Linked DNA regions of Homo sapiens: all the other regions are linked to region 2. The links come from fine-mapping of genetic effects on gene expression. A gene starts in region 2. Each other region holds a variant in brackets. All regions are shown on one strand. Distances are between the middles of the regions.

Region 1 (7,254 bases), 78 kb after region 2:
AACACAATACAGCCACAAGACTCCCACAGTCAATTGTGATAATCAGGGCACAACTATTATAGGGAAAATCTGTGAGTGGGAAAAAATCCTGATTCCTGAGTTCTCTTATTGGGATGGAAAGCCTGTGGAAATGACTGGCTGTTCTTTGGTTAGGGAGATGCCAAATGAAGCACAGTATAGATGGGTAAGGTGGTCTTGGAGAACAGGACTACTTGAGAGATGCTGGCTAAACGGAGTTTCCTTGAGTTGCACAGCAGTCAGATCAAACCAGGGGAAAGGCCTGAGGTGAAAAAAATATTGTTACTTTTTTATGTCTGTTCAGTATATCTGATTTGGCTGTTAAACACATCTTTTAAAGAAAGTTTTCCTCATTACCTTTTCATAAACTAGAAACATTAATACCTTTTCATAAACTAGAAATTCAGCTAGAACTAGTCAATGTGTAGATTTAAGTGTACTTAATGGTGATTTCTCACACTTATGTACATTTCTCTAAGTGCATTTGGAGAGGAATTCATTGTTAAAGAATTATTATAATATTAACATTGACACCCTTTGCAGAAAATTTTTCTTTTTTTTCTTTCTTTTTTTTTTTTTTGAGATGGAGTCTTGCTCTGTCGCCCAGGCTGGAGTGCAGTGGCGCGATCTCGGCTCACTGCAAGCTCTACCTCCCAGGTTCATGCCATTCTCCTGCCTCAGCCTCCCGAGTAGCTGGGACTACAGGCGCCCGCCACTACGCCCAGCCAATTTTTTTGTATTTTTAGTAGATACGGGGTTTCACCGTGTTAGCCAGGATGGTCTCAATCTCCTGACCTTGTGATCTGCCCGTCTCGGCCTCCCAAAGTGCTGGGATTACAGGCGTGAGCCACTGCGCCCGGCTGCAGAATATTTTTCTCGAATTTAGAAAGAACATATATAAGATCGTGGACATTAAGCAAGGAAGAAGTCTAATTGCTTTTAAGATATCCTCTTTAGCTGTATAGATTAAAAAGTAGGCTGGGCACAGTGACTCATGCCTGTAATCCTAGCACTTTGGGAGGCCAAGGCAGCAGGATCACTTGAAGTCAGGAGTTTGAGACCAGCCTGGACAACATAATGAGACCTCATCTGTACAAATTAAAAAAAAAATTAGCTGGATGTGGAGGGACACACCTGTAGTCCCAGCTACTCAGGAGGCTGAGGTGGGAAATTGCTTGAGCCCAGCAGGTCGAGGCTGCAGTGAGCTATGATCACACCACTGCACTCTAGCCTGGGCTACAGAGTGAGACCCCCATCTCTAAAAAAACAGAGAGGAAAGTTAATATGCAAATGAATACCTAACGGGGCAACATTAAGTATTAGTCTATAGTGTAATTCAAGTTAAAAAGCCTTAAGACATAGGGTTTCAATATTTTTCAAAAGATCAGGAGAGACAGGCATGATGGTGCGCACCTGTAGTCCCAGCTACTCAGGAGGCTGAGAGAAGAGGATTGCTTGAGCCCAGGAGTTCAAGGCCAGCCTGGGCAACATAGTGAGACCCTGTCTGTTAAAAAAAAAATCAAGAGTAAGGCTAAGGCAAAGATACCTGCTCTCACCAGTCTTATACAGAATAGTACTAGAAGTTCTAGGCAATGCAATAAGGCAAGAAAAGGAAATTAGAAGGCATGGACATTGGAAAGGAAGAAATGAAACCGTCTCTATTTATACATGACATTATTATCTATGTAGAAAACTCCAAGGAATCTTTTTTTTTTTTTTTTTTGAAATGGAGTTTCGCTCTTGTTGCCCAGGCTGCAGTGCGATGGTGTGATCTCAGCTCACCACAACCTCCGCCTCCTGGGTTCAAGTGATTCTCCTGCCTCAGCCTCCCAAGTAGCTGGGATTACAGGCATGCACCACCATGCCTGGCTAATTTTGTATTTTTAATAGAGATGGGGTTTCTCCATGTTCATCAGGCTAGTCTGGAACTCCTGACCTCAGGTGATTCACCTGCCTCGGCCTCCCAAAGTGCTGGGATTACAGGCATGAGCCACCGCACCCAGCCCAAGGAATCTATTTTTAAAACCTCCTAGAACTAATGAATTCAGCAAGGTTGCAGGATACAAAATAAACATACAAATATCAATTGTATTTATATACAATAGTGATAAACATGTGGACACCAAAATTGAAAATGTTTTTTCATTTATTGTCACTCCAAAAAATGATATACTTAGATGTAAATCCAATAAAACATGTACAAGACTTGCATAATAAAAACTATAAAATGCTGATGAAAGCAAAGAATATCTAGAGAAACATACTATATTAATGAGTGGGAAAACTCAACAAAATTAAGATGTCAGTTTTCCAAAAATTGATCTATAGATGTAATCACAAAATAAAAATTATTGCCAACACCAGTTGCTGGTGAGGATGCAGAGAAACTGGATTATACATTGCTAGTGATAATATAAACTGGTACTACTGTGAAAAACAATTTGGCAGTGTCTTAAAAAAATAAATATGCAACTACCAAATGACAATAATTACACTCCTGGTCATTCATTCCAGGTAAGTGGACACTTATGTTCACACAAAAGCCTGTACATGAATGTTCATAACACCCTTATTCATAATAGCCAAAAACTGGAATCAACCCAGATGTCCTTCAACAGGTGAATGGTTAAACAAATTGTGATACAGCCATGCCGTGGAATATTATTCAGCAATAAAAGCCAACTATTAATACACATAACAACTTGGATGAATCTCCAGAGACTTGCTGAATGAAAAAAGCCAGTTTCAAAAGGTGGCATACATATGATTCCACTTATATAACATTCTTGAAATGACAAAATTATAGGAATGAAGAACACATTAGAAGTTACCAAGTTTGCAGCTGTGAGGAGGCAACATGAAGAATTCGTTAGTGAAAGAACTGTTCTATATCTTAACTGTATCAATGTCAGTATCCTGGCTGTGATATTGTGCTACAGTTTTGCAATATCTATTTCCATTGATGGAAAATGGGTAAATGGGTACATGAGATTTCACTATTATTTCTTAACAATTTCATGTGACTCCGTATTTATCTCAAAATA[A/G]AGAAAAAAATTATCTTGGCTGGGTGCGGTGGCTCACACCTGTAATCCCAGCACTTTGGGAGGCCAAGGCAGGCGGATCATTTGAGGTCAGGAGTTCAAGACCAGGCTGGCCAACATGGTGAAACCCTGTCTCTACTAAAAATACAAAAAAGTCAGCCAGGCTTACTGGCTGTAATCCTAGCTACTCAGGAGGCAGAGGCAGGAGAATTGTTTGAACCTGGGAAGCGGAGGTTGCAGTTAGCCGAGATTGCACCACTCACTCCAGCCTGGGTGACAGAGCTAAAACTCCATCTCAAAAAAAAAAAAAAAAAATACTTGAATTCCAGTTTCTGGTCTGACATGTAAGAAGCTAGAAGTTGCCACTCTATCCTAACAATAATTAAAAAGCTGAACTAAAAAATCAATAACTCTTTTAGATGTGTAAGAGAGGTAGGGTCAAGGGCAAACTACTCTCCCTAAGACTGCAGGGACCAGAACACAAATGCTCAGAAGTAGCTTGCTGGAGGAGAAACCCATGAGCTGAAACCTCTATGGGAACCCAGTGCCAAGATAGGGAACCCGGAACTGTAACTGACAAATTGCTGGAGGTTCAGAGTGGACAAGTCTGAGAATAAAAATGTCAGACTTGGGGGACCCAATCACTGGGGACCCTCACACTTATGATTTTTACCTCTAGGAGCTCAACCAGGTTCTCAGTGATATCTGAGAAAAATCCCCTTGTGCTTCCATCAAAGGGAGAGGAAAATAAACCATTTTGAAATATGGCAGAGCATTCTGTTCTTAGCAAGGTCTGCCCTTGGGAGAAACTATTTAACCAGAGCCAAACCTTCTGGGGTTTTATCTGAGCCTAACTGACCTGGGGGAAGAGAAATAGCCAGTTCCAGTCAGGTCTACCCTTCCACGTGGAAGGAGGAATGGGCTCCTCAACTCCAGCCCACTTTAGCCATCCTGTTCCACTGAAGAAGGAGAAAAATCCTGAGAAACACTTGTGAAGTTCACAGTCCAGAGTACAGGCTCACTCAAAGACTGAGACCTACCCGTAGGACTATAGAACACTTCCCCTCCTCAACTCCTTACTACATTATTAAAGACCTATTTACAGGCCGGGTGCGATGGCTCATGCCTGTAATCCCAGCATTTTGGGAGGCTGAGGCGGGCAGATCATGGTGTCAGGAGTTCGAAACCAGCCTGGCCAACATGGTGAAACCCCATCTCTACTAAAAATACAAAAATTAGCTGGGTGTGGTGGCGGGCACCTGTAATCCCAGCTACTCAGGAGGCTGAGGCAGGAGAATCGTTTGAACTCAGGAGGCGGAGGTTCCAGTGAGCCAAGATCGCGCTATTGCACTCCAGCCTGGGCAACAGGGCAAGACTCCGTCTCAAAAACAAACAAAAAAAAGCCTATTTACAGCAGTTCTTTTTACCTGGTACATCATGTCTGACTATCCAGAAAAAGTTAACAGGCATACTAAAAGCCAAAAAACAAAAAACCACCAAAACCCACAATTTGAAAAGGTAGAACAAGCATCAGAACCACATATGAGAGGAATACTGGAATAATCAGACTGGGAATTTAAAATAACTATGACTGAGGCCAGGTGAGGTGACTCCTGTAATCCCAGCAATCTGGGAGGCCGAGGTGGGAGGATTGTTTGAGCCCAGGAATTCAAGCTTGGGCAACAAAGTGAGACCCCAGTCTCTACAAATAATAAAAAAAACTAGCCAAGCATGGTGGCATGTGCCTGTGGTCCAGCTACTCGGGAGAGGTGGGAGGATCACTTGAGCTCGGGAGATTGTAGCTGCAGTGAGCAGTGATCATGCCACTGCACTCCGGCCTGGGTAACAAAGCAAGACCCTGTCTCAAAAAATAAAATAACTATGACTAATATGCTAAAGGATCTAATGGATAAAGTAGACGGCAGACTACGGAAGCAGAAAGATGGAAGTTCCAGGAACCAAAAATAAATACTACTCATTAAAAACACTGTGACAGATATGAAGAATATCTTTGAGGCCCCTATTAGTAGACTGTTCATGGCCGAGGAAATAATCTCTGAATCTGAGGATATCTCAACAGAAACCTCCAAAACTGAAAAGCAAAGAAAACAAAGACGAAAAATACAGAACAAAATATCCAAGGACTGTGGGACAACTACAAAAGATGTAACATGCGCATAATGAGACTAGAAGGAGGAGAGAAAGGACACAAGAAATATTTGAAACAATAATGACTGAGAATTTCCCCCAAATTAATGTCAGACACCAAACCACAGATCTAGGAAGCTCAAGAAGACACCAAGCAGGATAAATAACAAAAACACACAAGAAACTATACCTAAACATATCATTTTGAGACTACAGAAAAACAAAAAATCTTGAGATAAGCCAGAGGGAAAAAAAACACCATACCCATAGAAAAACAAAGATAAGAAAGCTGATTTTTAGGATCATGCAAGCAAGGAGAGAGTGCAGTGAAATATTTAAAGTGCAGGAAGAAAAAAAATCACTAACCTAGAACTCTGTGCAAAGTTATCCTTCTAAAGTGAAGGAGAAATAAAGACTTTACCAAACAAAAATTGAGGGAATTTGTTGCCAGTAGACCTGTCTTGCAAGAAATGTTCAAAGAAGTTCCTTAGGAGGAAAATGATATAGGTCAGAAACACGGATCTACATAAAGAAAAGAAGAGCACTGAAGAAGGAACAAGTGAAGATAACTTTAGTTTTTCTTACTCCTAACTGATCTAACAGATAACACTGTAAACCAGAAAGTATCTGAGACAAGCATCAGTCAATTTAGAAAGTTTATTTTGCCGAGGTTGTGGCTATGTGCCCGTGACACAGCCTCAGGAGGTTCTGATGACATGTGCCCAAGGTAGTCGGGGCACAGCATGGTTTTATACATTTTAGGAATACAGGAGACATCAATCACTATATGTAAGATGTACATTGGTTTGGTCTGGAAAGGTGGGACAACTTCAAGTGGGGCGGGGGTTTCCAGGTCATAGGTAGATAAGAGACAAACGGTTTTATTCTTCTGAGTTTTTGATGAGCCTTTCACTGAATACACAATTTACAGGAATAGTCTCTTATGACTTAGAATGGCTTAGTGAAGCAATAGGGCAAATGTTTAAATGTATGTTGCAAAGTTGTAGGATACAAGATTAATATGCAAAAGTCAGTGTCTTTTCTATATACCAGCAATGAACAAGTGGAATTTAAAATTAAAAACACATTACCATTTATATTAGAACCCCCAAAATGAAATACTTAGGTATAAATCAAATGAAATATGTGCAAGATCTACATAAGGAAAACTATGAAACTGATGAGAGAAGTCTAAAAACAACAAAATAAATATAGAGATTTCATGTTCATGGAGAAGAAGACTCAATACTATAAAGATGCCAGTTCTTCCCAACTGAACTACACATTCAACGCAATGCCAATCAAAATCCCAGGAAATTATTTTGTGGATATTGAAAAATTGACTCTATAGTTTAAATGGGGCCAGGTGCAGCAGCTCATGCCTGTAATCCCAGCACTTTGGGAGGCCGAGGTGGGTGGATCACGAGGTCAGGAGTTTGAGACCAGCCTGGCCAACATGGTGAAACCCCATCTCTACTAAAATACAAAAATTAGCTGGGCATGGTGGCGGGTGCCTGTAATCCCAGCTACTGGGGAGGCTGAGGCAAGAGAATTGCTTGAACCCAGGAAGCAGAGGTTGCAGTGAGCCAAGATGGCGCCACTGCACTCCAGCATGGGCAACAGAACAAGACTCCACCTCAAAAAAAAAAAGTTTAAATGGAAGAGCAAAAGACTCAGAACAGGCTGGGTGTGACGGCTCATGCCTGTAATTCCAGCACTTTGGGAGGCTGAGGCAGGAGGATCACTTGAGGCCAGGAGCTTGAGACCAGCCTGGGCAACATAGCAAGATCCCATCTCTACAAAAAAATATAAAAAATCAGCTGGGCACAATGGTGTGCACCTGTAGTTCTGTAGTTCTAGCTACTCAGGAAGCTGAAGTGGGAGGATTGCTTGAGCCCAGAAGGTTGAGGATGCAGTGAGCCATGATCGTGCCACTGCACCCCAGCTGGGGCAGCAGAGCAAGACCTTGTCTCAACAACAAACAAGACTCAGAATAGCCAACTCAGTATTGAAATGGAAGAACAAAGTCAGAGGAGTAACACTACCC
Region 2 (6,828 bases):
TCACGTAGGTGCCCACACTAAGGGCAGGTACTCTCGTAAGACTGACTGGAATCAAACTGCTGATCCAGCCTGCACCACCAAGACTGCTGCCATAGCCACCTGGATTCATGCAACCGGTGTGGAAACATCTACCATCATGGGCTAGGCACAACGTAAGGGACTACATGTTTCTGAGGCAGAAGCCACCACTGCGTGCCAGACTTGTGACTCCTGCCAAAAGTTGGCCTGCTTGTCTTGCAGTAAAGGAAGCCACATTGCAAGGGGCACTGACCACACCTGCTCCTGGGAGATTGACATTAGGACTTTGTTCCCTTCTCTAGGCTCTCATCAGTACCTTGCTACTGCTGATACTTTTTCAGTTTACAGTGCTGATGTTGCTTTTCCAGTCCAATTATCTGACTCTGTGTATACCACTGTGGCCCTTGAAACTAAACTGCCAGGTTTTCTGCTTTCCAAACCATCTACAGTCTGACACTGGCATATCTTTTTGTCGCAATGGCCACCCAACAGTGTCAACAGTCAATAGCCAAGGTATTCGATGGACCTCCCACACTCCCTACCATCCACAGGCATGACATTGTCAAGTACTGAACAGTTCCCTCAAAGATCAACTCAAAAAGATTTTTGATTCTATGTTTTTAACCTCCTCCTGGTCTGCAAACCTTACTGAAGCAGTTTGGTCACCTAAGGCAGCCATTCTCAGAAATGGGTCATCTCCTTTTGCCTACCAACTGGGTAATGATCAGGAAAAAGGGGTGGAGGGTTATATAAACCTATTTTGAAAATGTGAGATTCTCCCCTGACCATTTCTGGCCATGATTCATCTTTCTTCCCCCTTACAGAAAGCCCAGATCAGCTGGGAGGAGGAGGCTATCTATGTAATTCAGACTTAATTCTAGTTCAGTCACTAGATTGTCTTGTTGGAATGGCCTGGTGCCAGAACATAAAGTTAATGATCATTTGGTTGGGTATAGTGCTTTTAAAGTCCCCCTACAGTGGCCCACATGTGTCAAGGTAGAAGACATAATGGGCCTCTGTCAATTTTCTAACAATTGGATATTAGAAGGCCTGCGTATTGGTAGGGGATAAATGGAGAAAAGGTGAAGTTATAGTTACTAGGGTAGGACACACTCATTATGTAGCAATGGAAGGAAAGAAACAATCCTGGCATCTGGGGAAGGAACACCACAGGACCCTGGAGATGTAAAGAGAAGGGAAACAATGTTCTCTTTGTCCCTATCCAGCACCAAAGCCTGGCAAACATTCACATGGTCCATCTAGGTCAAGCAGCAACTGTGGCTGGCAATCTGACCTGTGGCTGAGTTTGTCATCTCACTATGAAAACATAAAAACTTTATCTAGCAGGTCAGTATAAAAAAGAAAATAAAAAAAGAAAACAAAAACTCACATGGACACGGCCAGTCTTGAACTATTCCCACGTGCCTGATGACATCAACACCAACTCCCAAACGCAGACCTCCCTCATAGGTGTGCAAACACACAGATCAGCACCACCTTCTATCAATGCGGCTGATACAAATCACATGCTTCTCCTGAGATCCTAAGGGCCTTACTTAGGTTATGCCTTGTCTAGTGATTGAGGCTGCAACTGTTCAGTGACACTGCCCATGTGGTTTAAACCACTGTAATGGTAATCAAATTTGATGGTGATCCAAATAAAAATCTAACAAAAATCCTGGAGTGGCCTGCACTCCTCCAAGTAATATGTTAGTGTAAGGAAGAATGGGTCACAAAATATCTTTCCATTAATCATGGTAGTTAATTTTTTTTTTTTTTTTTTGAGACAGAGTCTGGCTTTGTCGCCTAGGCTGGAATGCAATGGTGCGATCTTAGCTCACTGCAACCTCTGCTTCCCAGGTTCAAGTGATTCTCCCACCTCAGCCTCCCGAGTAGCTGGGATTACAGGCACCCGCCATCATGCCCGGCTAAGTCTTGTATTTTCAGTTGAGACGGAGTTTCACCATGTTGGCCAGGTTGGTCTCGAACTCCTGACCTCAGGTGATCTGCCCGCCTCGGCCTCCCAAACTGCCGGGATTACAGGTGTGAGCCACTGCGCCCAGCCTGGTAATTACTTTCTTAAAAAAATTTTTACAAGGGTAGTGGGCTATTGTAATTACTGGTAATGACACCAAAGATCAGAGATCAATCTGAACCCCTGTGCACAGGTCACAGTGGTTAATAGACTGGTCTTAGACTGCAGCCCAGATGTCTGAAATAAGATTCCTCGGTGCCCCCAGGACTTATTCACAAGTGGCTGAATCCAGGACCCTGGAGGGCATGGTTGAGGTAAATACTGTAAGCTGGCCTTATTCTGCTGCTTAGAGTCCCATTGACAACAACCTTAATTAAATGCTGTAAGGGACAAACTGAAAAGATGTGAGTAGCCAGGGGAGTTGTATATTCATGTGAAAATCTGCTAGAAGCCAAGACCATAGAATCGAGGAGTGAGAGAGGCTGTCAGATTGCTCGTGCCTCTACACATCATTCTGGGTATACCAAGAATGCAAGGCCCTGACTGCATCTCACCTGGGCCATTTCTCATGGTTGTGTTTGCAGCAAGCAACTTTGAGAGAAGAGGCAGTGTCTCCCTCCAGGACAAAGAGGAGGTCTGCGTACTGCCTTCTATAAAACAGCAGATTTTCCAAGCTTGTCGTTCCTTCACTTGGATGCAACCCACTGCCTGTGCAGTCATCCATTTAAACCCATAGCGTCACCCTGTGGGACTTGGATGGCAAGGGAAACTGCTTCTAACATGCATCCTATTTCCTGTAATAAAGTCCTTTGTCTCTAACCCAGGAGTCTCATCTTCTGCCAGCAGTCACGACACAATAACAAGCTAATTTATTAATTTCTAAATAAAGCAACCCTGACAGTCTGTTTTCTTGCCTGCTTTTTGCTTAAAGAATTCCATTTCTGACACCCAGTATCTGGATAGTACAAGCTAAAACCTTTAAGAAAATAAATCTCTTCTCACAAGAAGAGTTCTGCCTCATAAAATCCTTTGGTCACCATACCTGAACACCCAAACTGTCCTTGCCCTATAGGATAAAGGTACACAGTTAGGTATTTTCTCCTCTGTTGATGCCTGAAAATCCTGCAGACATAGGAACTCAGGCCTTAGAAAATTCTGTACCCAAAAATTTGCAATTCTCTTTGGAAAGTTGAAAGCACCTTTAAAAGCCACAATTTGCAAGCCAGGTGATGCACTGTAGCATAACCTGGAAGACATGAGGGCTGCTTCCTCAGATACTAAGAATCCCACTGCCCCACCACCAGAGCAAAACGATCCCCCTCCCAGAGAATGCACCTCGCCAGAGGCCAACCCACCCGATACCTCAAGTTCCCCTCCACCGTGGCCCTCCTCCTATAGATCCCGCCCCCTCCGTACCCTCGGGCCAATCAGAGGGCGGCGTCCCGTCGCGGTTGCCATGGTGCCCGCCGAGTCCCTCCCATCACTCACCAGATGTGCGGCGGCTCGTCCAAGCGGTGGAAGCGGGTGGCGAAGGACAGCAGCGTCACCAAGGCCAGCAGGGCCCACCAGCCGACCGCCTCGAAGCGCCGTGAGCCCCAAGCAGGCCGTTTGGGGCTTCGCGCCACAGCCTCAGCGGCCACGTCCCGGCCTGCGGCCCTAGCAGCCTGGGGGCCACAGCGGCCCCTCCGGGGACGCAGCTCGGACTCTGCCAGGCCTCCGCCCGTGGCCGGCGGCATCTTCCCCCTCCTCTGGGTCGCCCTCCGGCCCGGAGGCACACTTTGTCTGACCAGCCGCCCCGCCAAGGAGTCACAAGAGGGCAGCTCGGGGTACCCCGGGAAATGCAACGCCCTTCACTGCAGCGGAGCGCGGGGCCCCGGGCTCGGGGCGGGGCGGGCAGCGTGGTCGCGGCCCGGGCCGCTAGGAGGCGGCAGGAGGCGCAGAGCATGTCGGGACCGGGAGGGCCGGCCGGCCCGGGGCGGGGGGGACTGGGCAGGAGGGGTCGGGCTCAGGGAACTGCAACTCCCAGCAGCCCCCAGGTACGGGGCGTGGCGGGAGAGCTGGGCGAGCCAGAGGCGACCGGAAGGATCTTTCTAGTCCAGCCCCTCGCTTTACCCGGACGAAAGACACGGGCCTGATTCGTCGAGTCTCACTGAGCCTTAGTCGTCGGCAGGTCCCAGGCGCGAAGTTTCTCGGCCTGGAGGAGGGGGTCGCGCGAAGTGCCAGATGCAGGCGGGGAAGGTCTGTGACGCGCACCCGGGTGGAGGGAAGCTGGTTAGACACCTGGAGACCCTGGGGGGCGGGGTCAGAAGTGAGCTGCACCGCCCGCCCAGGCCGACAACGACTCCCGGCATGCAGTGCTTTGCGCCGGGCACGCTCTGCGCCTGCGTGCTGCGCGCTGCCCGCTGGGGCTCGAAGTTCCGGGAGGGTTGGGCCAGAGGAGGCGGTCCTGGTAGGGAGTGCGTAGCAGGGTGGAGTCGCTGTCCGGTCGCGCTTCACTTCTGCTCCGCCCTCCCTGCTCCCCATAACAGACCCCTCCCTCCACTAAGGCTTCCAAACGTCGCCCCAAGCCTCCCAATTTCTCGCAGCCCTTCATGCTCTTCTCTTGGCCCTAGCAGGAGGTGACCTTCCAGTAATGTTTGTATTTTAAGAGTCCCCGGGCCGGGCGCGGTGGCTCACGCCTGTAATCCCAGCACTTTGGGAGGCCGAGGCGGGCGGATCACAAGGTCAGGAGATAGAGACCATCCTGGCTAACACGATGAAACCCTGTCTCTATTAAAATACAAAAAAATTAGCCAGGCGTGGTAGCGGGCGCCTGTAGTCCCAGCTACTCGGGAGGCTGAGGCAGGAGAATAGCGTGAACCCAGGAGGCGGAGCTTGCAGTGAGCCGAGATCGCGCCACTGCACTCCAGCCTGGGCGAAAGAGCGGGACTCCGGCTCAAAAAAAAAAAAAAAAGGCCCCGAGCGAGGAGAGGCAGTCATGACAATCACCTGGGGAGCTTCACGGCTTTCACATGTTCTTCCCGGGGCCTGCTCCAGAGCCACTCTGTTCATCTCTGGTGGAACGGGCTCGAGAATCTGCATGTTTTTATAAGCGGTCTAGATGGTTCTTAACGTGCCATGAAGTTTGAGAACCACTTTTGTGGCACTAAGGAAGGTGGCACGTTAGATGGGACTTTGCGTCACGTTAATAATGTATAGTCCTCCCTCTTCCAAATGGGATTTTAGGAGTCTTTTTCTCAAATCATGTGTAAGACATGGTTTAAAAATAAAATCTGCTAAAGTAATCAGAATGCATATTTGAATTGGAAACACAGGTCTTCTAGGAGTGCTGATGAGATGGATACTTGGGCTTAAAGTTTAGTTCTACAAGTGCAGAAAGGAACGGGGCATGGTTTACATAGTTATCACTGGTAAGAGAAGGCAGAAATTGCCTAAGAGATTTCAGGTTTCCTGCTTGTGGGTCGTGACGGAGGGCAGCAGCATTTACCATGCTTCTGGTCACTCGTAGTACAGATCCAAAGGTGTAATCCAAAGGCATTTAGCCATTAGGTAAGGCATTTCTTCAGGGATTCTAAGCTAATTAATGTCTGCCACACTCTAGTGGTCACCAGCAGTCCCTGTCCCTTGGCACCAGGAGTCCCTGTAGCCTGGCTAGGTAAGGAAAGGGAGTTGCATCTCCAAATAAGGAAGATCCAGTTGTGGCCACCCAATTCCTCCTCTTCGAAAGACACTTTCTGCCCATCACCTGCTTTCTGTGCCAGGACCATCTTTACTTTCTCCACAAAAGGTACCTTCAGGACAGGCTGGGACTGCTGGGCTTGGGAACCATCTTGGAAGGGCCTAGGTTCCCACTTACACCCTTGCCATCTAGCAGACTGAGTTGGTAGTACAGGGATGGCAATAGCAAGTTCAGAGAGCAGCTTAATATGCTAGGGGTGGCAGAGGGGAGAGGGAGCTTTGGTGAAATGTCTATAGTCAGAGGGGTAGTAAACAGGGCATCTGAGAAGTTCTTTCAAGTTCTCCCCTATCCATAGGGATACACATGTTTTGGTGGGAAGATTCATGAGTGCTAATCACTGGCGAGTCTTTCCTGGGTTCCACTTTGAAATGCTGGCTCCCGAAGAAGTACCAGAGAAATTAACTTTGAGCCCCTTAAACCTTGGAGTAGAGATCGCACACCCAGCTGCCCCCAAGGGCCCAAAGGTAACAAAAATGAGAAAAGTGGGCCAGATATGGGCCATGGCAGACCTGAGAGCGCATACGCTGGTTGATGGGGGCCATTAGTCTGTTCCCATCAATTGCTGCTATTTAGGAACCCAAATCTGTCTCCAGATTTTTTTAAAGAAAAAAAACAAACAGGTGTTGTATATAAAATATCATGATTTTTATTTTTATTTTATTTTATTATTTATTTATTTTGAGATGGAGTCTTGCTCTGTCCCCCAGGCTGGAGGGCAGTGACACGATCTTGGCTCACTGTATCCTCCGCCTCCTGGGTTCAAGCAATTCTCATACCTCAGCCTCCCAAGTAGGTGTGATTACAGATGCACACCACCACACCTGGCTAATTTTTGTTTAGCCATGTTGTTTCGCCATGTTGGCCAGGCTGGTCTCGAACTCCTGACCTCAGGTGATCTGCTGGCCTCAGCCTCCCAAAGTGCTGGGATTACAGGCATGACCCACCATACTAGAATGAAATGTCCTGATTTTTAAACATTGGCAACTACTTGAAACATTTTAAACTACTGTGTTGAGCAAACAGAAATTCTGAGGGCCAGATAGGGCCCCAGTGAGCTGCCAGCTTTTGACCTCACCTTTGGGGTGAGTGAGCATAT
Region 3 (7,254 bases), 41 kb before region 2:
TAATGATGGTTGGTCTGAATGCCCAAGCATGGCCAGAAGCTTCCCTCCCCACCACCCAGTAGGTAGCACAGCCTGTCCCTGGGACCAATATCCAGTCTCCGTGGCAACCGCCTCCTGAAGATGCTTTAAAGAGATCTGACCCTGTCAGAGTTGTTGGGAGCTTCAGAGGAGGGAAAATGGAGTGTGGCGGATTCATCATTAAATATTGAAGCATCAAAGTCCTCTGAGACAAAAGAAATATTTTGTCATGCACCAGGAAGGTGGAGGCAGGCTTAAGGGCTGGCCTTGGGTGGTTTGGTTCTACCACAGGGTTTTCTTCATCCCTTTTGGGGAGGAAGTGGAAGGGGCAGCTCTGAGCTTCTTGTTTGAGCTGCAGAGTGGTAGACGCAGGAAGCTGGCATGCATTTCTAGGTGCCATGGGTCTTCACTGCTGAAGCAGTGACAGAGAGAAAGGGAATTGCCCACGGAGTGAGGGAGGGGTGAGCAGAGGAGGACTGCAGAAGTGACACTGGGAAAGCTCAGCAGGTGACAGGAACATTAGTCTGGAGAGGCCAGAGTCCCCACATCCCAGCACCACGCAGATTCCCTGCCCTGTCTCTCATCTACCTTGGGCGCTAAGCAAGGTTCCCATGGGCTCTCCCAGCAGCCAGGAGAATGCATCTGCCTTGCCCTCCAGGCCAGGCTAGATGCACTTGGAGAGACCTGGCCTCTGGCACACAGGGCCTGGGAACACTGAGCAGCCCAGGATAGGACATCGTTCCTCCCGAGTGTCACAGTGTGACAATCCCAAAAAACGAGGAACCAAGGGCTAAGGCAGGCTGACGCTCCGGAGTCCGCTGCTCTCTGTGCGTCACAGGCAGGAAGTCCAGCTACCTGCAGCCACTGGGGGGCATGGTGGGAGCCAGGCCCTCCAGCTCGGGGCGGCGCGCCTTCCTCCACGCTGGATTCATTTGTTTGTGGGAGGGAGGGCAGCACAACTTTGACAGTCCCATCTGCTCTGCCTTTGGTGACATCCCAAGGTGAGGTCAGTATTCTCTGCCCTCAAGGCCCTCTCAGAGGTCTGAGAATTTTTGATGGATCTTACAAACCAAAACCAAAGAAATCCAACAGAAAAAAATACCAGAAAATATTACTATAGCCTGGACTATTTTAGAGTTTATGACACTCAGCTGTCCAGTTACACGGTCTGTATTCCACAGGGATATGGACAACATGCCCTCACATACACACACGCGCACCCACTCCCACCCTCTGGCACCCATCCTCCCCTGCGCTGTGCACGAGGGAGCAGCCCAAGAGGCGCTGTCCTCTCCGTGGTGCTGTGGACGGAGCTGCGGCTCTCTCCCGGCTCTCTCCAATGCTGGGTTCCATTCCAGCTGCACTCCCAGAGCTGGGTCCTGGTGAGCAGCAGAATTCTTCGGGCTCCTTAGGCAGCTTCCTCATGGCCGGATGGTCCAGTACTGCTTCCCAGCTGGCTCTCCTGGGAAGTTCCTGGACCCAGGCTGGAATCTTTGCAGTGGCCTCAAAAGTCCCATGAGTCCAGCCACCTTAGTCCTGCCATTGGACTTTGGGGGTCCTGGGCCAGGGGACCAACCATCCCGTAAGCCAGAGGGTGGAAGAGGTAGAAGCTGTGAGAGAGAACCAGTAGGAGGCAGTTGGCACCCCCAGTGCCTCAGCTGAGGGGCTTTGAATTCCATTCCTCCTGCTGGAGCTCCAGAGAAATTCCCCATCGCCAAGCCCGGTTCTCTTTCACGGCCTTGTCTGTCTGAGTCCCACTGGGGCACACTGTAGCTGGAGAGCTTAGTAGATGCTGACTCAATGACAATCATGGAAAGGGCTCTTCCCAAGAGGCCCAGGAGGGCAACCCTTCTAGGGGTCTTGTCATGGGCTATTTGGCCAGGGGTGTTTGTCAACATGTGAATGTAACCCTCTTAGGCAGGCATGTGCTCACAGGCCACAGGCCCAGCACCAAGGCCAGGGACTGGGGAAGCGGGGAGCCTTCCAAACAACTCTCCCTTTCAGCCACTCAGCCACACACTTCCCATTCCCACCCTTCCCACCCCACCCGTCGAGAGCTCTTCCGGCAGGGGGCCACAGTGACTAAAGAGGGGTGCCCTGTCCCCCATTGCCCCCCGGTTCCCCCCTCCCTCACCCGGAGAGCTGTTCTGACAGGGGGCCATGGTGACTAAAGAGGGGTTCCCTGCCCCCCATTCCCACACTCCCCCTCTGAGAGCTGTTCTGGCACAGAGTCACTGTCACTAGAGGGGTACCCTTCCAGGTGCGCTGGGATGGCACAAAAGCTGAACCACCGGCAGAAGGGGAAAAGGCAGAGTTAAGCCCTGCTTCTCCTACCTGGCTGCACATTAGGATCACCTGGGGGACTCTGGAAACCACGGCCCCACCTGGGCTTGGGTGACGCAGAACCTCCAGGCATGGGCACTGGTGGTGTTAAAAGCACCGCAGGGGATTCTCGAATGCATCAGGGCTGAGGCACTGCTGAGCCCACACTGGGAGGGCATGTGAGGTGCAGAGATGCTCACCTGTAGGCAGTTCCCAGGAGCAGGCTCAGGATTCCCGCCACATGTATGCCCCTCGCCAGGGGCCATGAGGCCAAGCCCCAGGCACAGAGCCGCAGGAGGGTGTCCCACAGAATGCCTAGAGGAGAGGAGAGAAACCTGGAGTCAGCCAGGCAGGGGGTGACTTCTGGGCTACAGAAGAAGGAGGCACTCCAAGTCAAGGAGCAGAGAGTCACTCCCAGCACTGCTGCCCCACAGTGGCCTCCCGTCAAGGAGCAGAGTCACTCCCAGCACTGCTGCCCAACAGTGGCCCGCCCTCCACCTGCTCTGTCTCCCAAGTCCAGGTGGGTGGCACTGACCTGTCAACATGCTTGAGAAGAGCATGGCTGGGAAGTAGTGGTGGAAGTAGAGGACCCGGCCCATCAGGAAAAACGGGAAGTAATGGAGTGTCCAGCCGAGCAGGACCTGGCCGCCTCCTCGAAGCAGGACCTGGGACAACCCTGGGCCCAAGCAGCACAGCCCAGTCAGAAGACAAGGAGCGGGCAGAGATTCCAGGCTCTGGTCCAGCTCTGCCCCTTCCTTGCTGTGTGACCTTGAATATGTCATATCACCTCATTGGACCAACCCAAACCACGCTACAGAAACTGGAGAGGAGCAGCTGGG[G/A]CTCGAGAGCTCTGGTCAGGGCCCAGCCTAGTGAGGCCTGGGCACCAATGGCAGGTGCACCAAGCACCAGCAGGAGGCAGCCCAGCCTCTAAAGAAACCCTTCTGCGCCTGCAGACAGCTTCACTCCCTACTTCCACCTCCCACATCTTTGCTGCCACACAGATCTTTGCAGCGGCAGACAGGCGCTAAGGTGAGGTTACAGGTGAGGATGGAGTGAGGAGGTGTCTGGGACTATGACTGTTCAGACAGAGAGCTGCAGAGGCAAAAGGGCCTGTGTGACTGTCTCAGGTGCTGTGGCCCATGGTCTGGCAGCCAAAGTTACCAAGAACAGCACTGGGATGGGAACTCAATAACCCTGGAGGCTCCTCTCTAGCCCATGAGAGGACAGGGCCATGGAACAAGGAGGTGGCAGAAAAGATGGGCAGCTCTGTACACAGCATGGGGCTAAAAGTGAGGGCTGTGGAGTCAGATTGCACGGGTTTGAGCCTCAGCTCTATCACTTACTAGCTGTATGTCCTGGGGCAAGTTTCTTAATCTCATGGTTCCTTGGTTTCCTAATCCATAAAATGGGGGTCATAATAGCCAACGCTCTAGTGTTGTTGGGAGGAAGTAAAGTGTTTAACACAGCACTGGGTACTTGGGGGTTGTTACCTTTCAAAAGCAAAGGATAAGGGAAGGTGTGGGGTGGTAAACGCAAAGGATGGCCCATCAGCAGGCAGCCGGCCCTCCCCAGGGGTGCAGGTGCCCTGCTGCCGCCAGGTCAGGGGAGGGAGAGCCCAGAGGACCTGACCTGCAACCTCCGCTGGCAGCCGTGCCCCTCTCTGCATGGCTACAGCAATGATGCTCCCTGAGAGGAGGTAGAGGGCGATGCTCAACAGATTCAGCCACCAAACCACCTGTGCAGAAATGGGAATGGGCAGATGAGAACGCAGCCGCTCTCCACGGGCAAGTGCTCCAGGGCCTGAGCCGGGAATGTTTAGGCACTCACCGGGTTGCCAAGCAGATAGACTCGGAAATCTGTGTCATTGACCCCTGAGAAGCGTAGGCCCTGTGGAATAGAGACCACCCTGCTGACCCAGGCCCAGCCCATCCTCGGCCACACCCATTAGGGGGAGGAAGATGGTCACCTTCCACAGACAGGGAGCCTGGACACGAACCTCAGGCTGGCAAATTCTACACGAGCTCTCTGGGAAGCAGGGTCAGAATTAGGGCAGAAAACAGATACTCCCACCTCTGGCCAACCCATCCCAGGAGGCCCCTCGCCCTGCCGCCCTAGTACACCCACCCCCGCCTCCACCGGTCTCCCTGCTCTTGTTCTTGGCTCCATTTCCTGGGAGGAGCCCCAGCCTTGGATCCTACCTGATAGTTGATAGGCCAGTGCCAGGGTTTGGACGTGAACTCATTGTCCTTGGGTTTGAGGCCACTGTTCCCCTGCATGAAGGTAGCAAAGAAAGCTAGTCAAGACAGAGATCTAGAGGGCTGACAGAAATGTGGGGCCCAGGTTTTTCTGATATAGGGCCAAGCGCCGAGCAGAACCTTCTCTCCTTCCCTTCCCTTGCAGGGAAGAATCAGGCAGCTGCTGTCTGCCTACCTACGACACTTGCTTTACTTCTCCCAGACAAGCCTCCATCTCCCATAAGGGGTCCATTCCAACCTTCTAGGGAAAAAGAAGGGAAAGAGGAAATTGTTCCAATGGGCACAAAATATATACCCATCTGCCAAGCTAAGGACAAGGTGTGAAAATGGTGGGAGAGAGGGGATATAAAATGAGGCTTACAGCCGGGTGCAGTGGCTCATGCCTGTAACCCCAGCACTTTGGGAGGCCGAGGCGGGTGGATCACCTGAGGTCAGGAGTTCAAGACCAGCCTGGCCAACATGGTAAAACCCCGTCTTTACTAAAAAATACAAAAAATTAGCTGAGCGTAGCGGTGGGTGCCTGTAATCCCAGCCACTTGGGAGGCTGAGGCAGGAGAACCACTTGAACCCAAGAGGCGGAGGTTGCAGTGAGCTGAGATCATGCCATTGCACTCCAACCTAGGCAAAAAGACCAAGACTCAGTCTCAAAATAAATAAATAAATAAATAAATAAATAAATAAATAAATAAATAATAAGGCTTACTTATTTGTTCCCTTCAGGGGCCAATTTCAAACAGAAAAGCAGAAACTCTCATGCGTGCCTAGACTTGGAAGAGGTTGCTTTAGCTTAGTGCTTCTCCACCTTTTTTTTCCACTACTGCCCCTCTACCAGGAGCCTTTGTAGACAAGTTTCTCCCTAAACACACTCCATGACATTTTAATACTTTATACTGTACATCTTACTTGTGCTTTATACATAAAAAATTAGATATTTTGCCCTCCAAGAACACATTTCATCTATTGGGAGAGAAATCAACCCTAATGCATGCTTTGGTTTGAAGGACCCAGACTCAGCCTCCCTAATCCAGCAGCCAAGAACATCTGCTAACCTTTCTCTACAGGGCAAACCAGGTCTTTGCTAAAACAGGAAGGAGTAGGGTCAGGATCCAGGATATTAACCACTAGGACTGGGTTCTGCCTTATCACTGGGACAGACTGAAAAGGCATTTCCCCAGAAGGGGAGTCAGCTGCCATGACTTAGGCCGGAGCTTCTCCACCTCAGCACTCCCAACATTTCGGGCTGGATGAGTCTTTGCTGTGAGGACTGTCCCGTGCATTGCAGAGTGTTTAGCATTCCTGGCCTCCACTCACTGAATGCCCGTAGCACTCCTACCCTCAACCCCTCAGTTTCCCAGCCAAAAATTTCTCCACAGATGGCCAAAAGTCCCGAGAGGCAAAATCACCCTCAATTAAGAACCACTGGTATAGCCTAAGAAAGACCCAGAAAGTTCAGTGGACTGCCACCCAGTGCCTTATGAATCCAGTTCAGCAAGGGGCTGGGAATAGTTTACAGGCCTCTACATGGTGGAGAGGTTGTGCCTCCAAGGTCAAAAGTGCATCCAGGGCATCAGACACAAAGGGGACAGCTGCACGGCCCCAGCGTCACTGCGGCCCTTTGAAGGACCTGGGAATGAGGAATGAATCATTCTGGACCCCTGCGGCAGTTGCTGAGGGAAACCAATTCCTTCAAATTGTACAGTTTGGTCCCAAACCCAAGGACTCCAGCCAGAACTGTACCAAGCCAAGGGAATCTTATTCACTACATTAAACTCTGAGAAATCCTGCTCTGTTGCTAAACTAAAAGAGGAAAGAAAAATCTGCAACCATCACAGGCATATGTACTTGTAAGTTGTTCTCTATGGCTGAAATCTGGATGGGCTCATTCCTGTAACTGCACCAGGCAAGGCAGCCTTCTCCTCCAGGTCCCGGGCCACTACTCAGCCAGCGGAAGAGCCCTGCCCCTGCAGTTTCTATAGTCTGGACTCACTGTTTTCATCTCTCTCCCCTCCCTGACTCTTTGTTGGCTGAATAAGAAAGCTCTCATTACTTCCCTTTTCTTCTCTGACTCTACTTCTTAGATAATGAAAGACAAAATGAAACTCGTAGATTTAGTCTTAAAATTTGACCCAGGCCCAGAATGATATTCTGACTGACAGGCACATGTTCAAAAGAGCTATGTCATCAGGCCACAGTGACAGCTACAAGCAGAGAGTCAGAAAGGAAGTGACCCAGAGATGCTTAATGTCAACTTATCACCTCCCAATGCGCAAAAATGACAAAATTTGAATTTTTAAAATTTAATCTGGTGAAATAAGTCAACTATATGTACTGAGTACTGCTTACATAATCACTTCCAGGGAAGTCCACTTGACAATGGCTTACCAGGGGAAAAATAACAAGTGCTACACCTCCCTGCAATGCTGTGGGTAGAGTGATAATCACATATCTGGCTTGAGATAGTGATTCTTAAACATTATTCCTGCAGAACACAGGTTTTCCATAAGCCAGAATAAGGGGGTCTTCCACTAAACAGCAGGACTACAGCAGGGGAAAATTTAAGCTAGTGAGTAGAATTTTCTCAATTTAAAGATTTCTTCTCTGAATTTTTCTTAAACCTTTGATGCTACAACTGCTGTCAGCTACTAATGATAGAGAGTGC

What was found. PIP is the estimated chance that this variant, and not a neighbour inherited with it, causes the effect.
Region 1: its variant is the best candidate, but not a certain one, in a credible set for the expression of POMT2 in lung (TOPMed, PIP 0.61).
Region 3: its variant is the best candidate, but not a certain one, in a credible set for the expression of POMT2 in tibial nerve (GTEx, PIP 0.77).

Annotation. Positions count from the first base shown.
Region 1 is chr14:77,394,526-77,401,779 of GRCh38, forward strand. NOXRED1 (NADP dependent oxidoreductase domain containing 1) reads right to left here. Exons shown (of 6, transcript NM_001113475.3): 6 at 1-280. The coding sequence ends at 106. Among named protein-coding and RNA genes, the nearest start is that of SAMD15, 21 kb to the left of the region's middle. The variant A/G (reference allele first, on the strand shown) is at 3,063.
Region 2 is chr14:77,316,953-77,323,780 of GRCh38, forward strand. POMT2 (protein O-mannosyltransferase 2) reads right to left here and starts at 3,931. Exons shown (of 21, transcript NM_013382.7): 1 at 3,482-3,931. The coding sequence starts at 3,729. It overlaps GSTZ1 (glutathione S-transferase zeta 1), which reads left to right and starts at 4,084. Exons shown (of 9, transcript NM_145870.3): 1 at 4,084-4,231. The coding sequence starts at 4,217. RefSeq lists silencers at 3,418-3,467, 3,698-4,077 and enhancers at 4,158-4,427, 4,305-5,166, 4,698-4,747.
Region 3 is chr14:77,275,854-77,283,107 of GRCh38, forward strand. It overlaps POMT2 (protein O-mannosyltransferase 2), which reads right to left. Exons shown (of 21, transcript NM_013382.7): 16 at 4,539-4,610; 17 at 4,168-4,227; 18 at 3,970-4,075; 19 at 2,876-3,016; 20 at 2,541-2,655; 21 at 1-1,628. The coding sequence ends at 1,523. Among named protein-coding and RNA genes, the nearest start is that of NGB, 8.3 kb to the left of the region's middle. The variant G/A (reference allele first, on the strand shown) is at 3,180.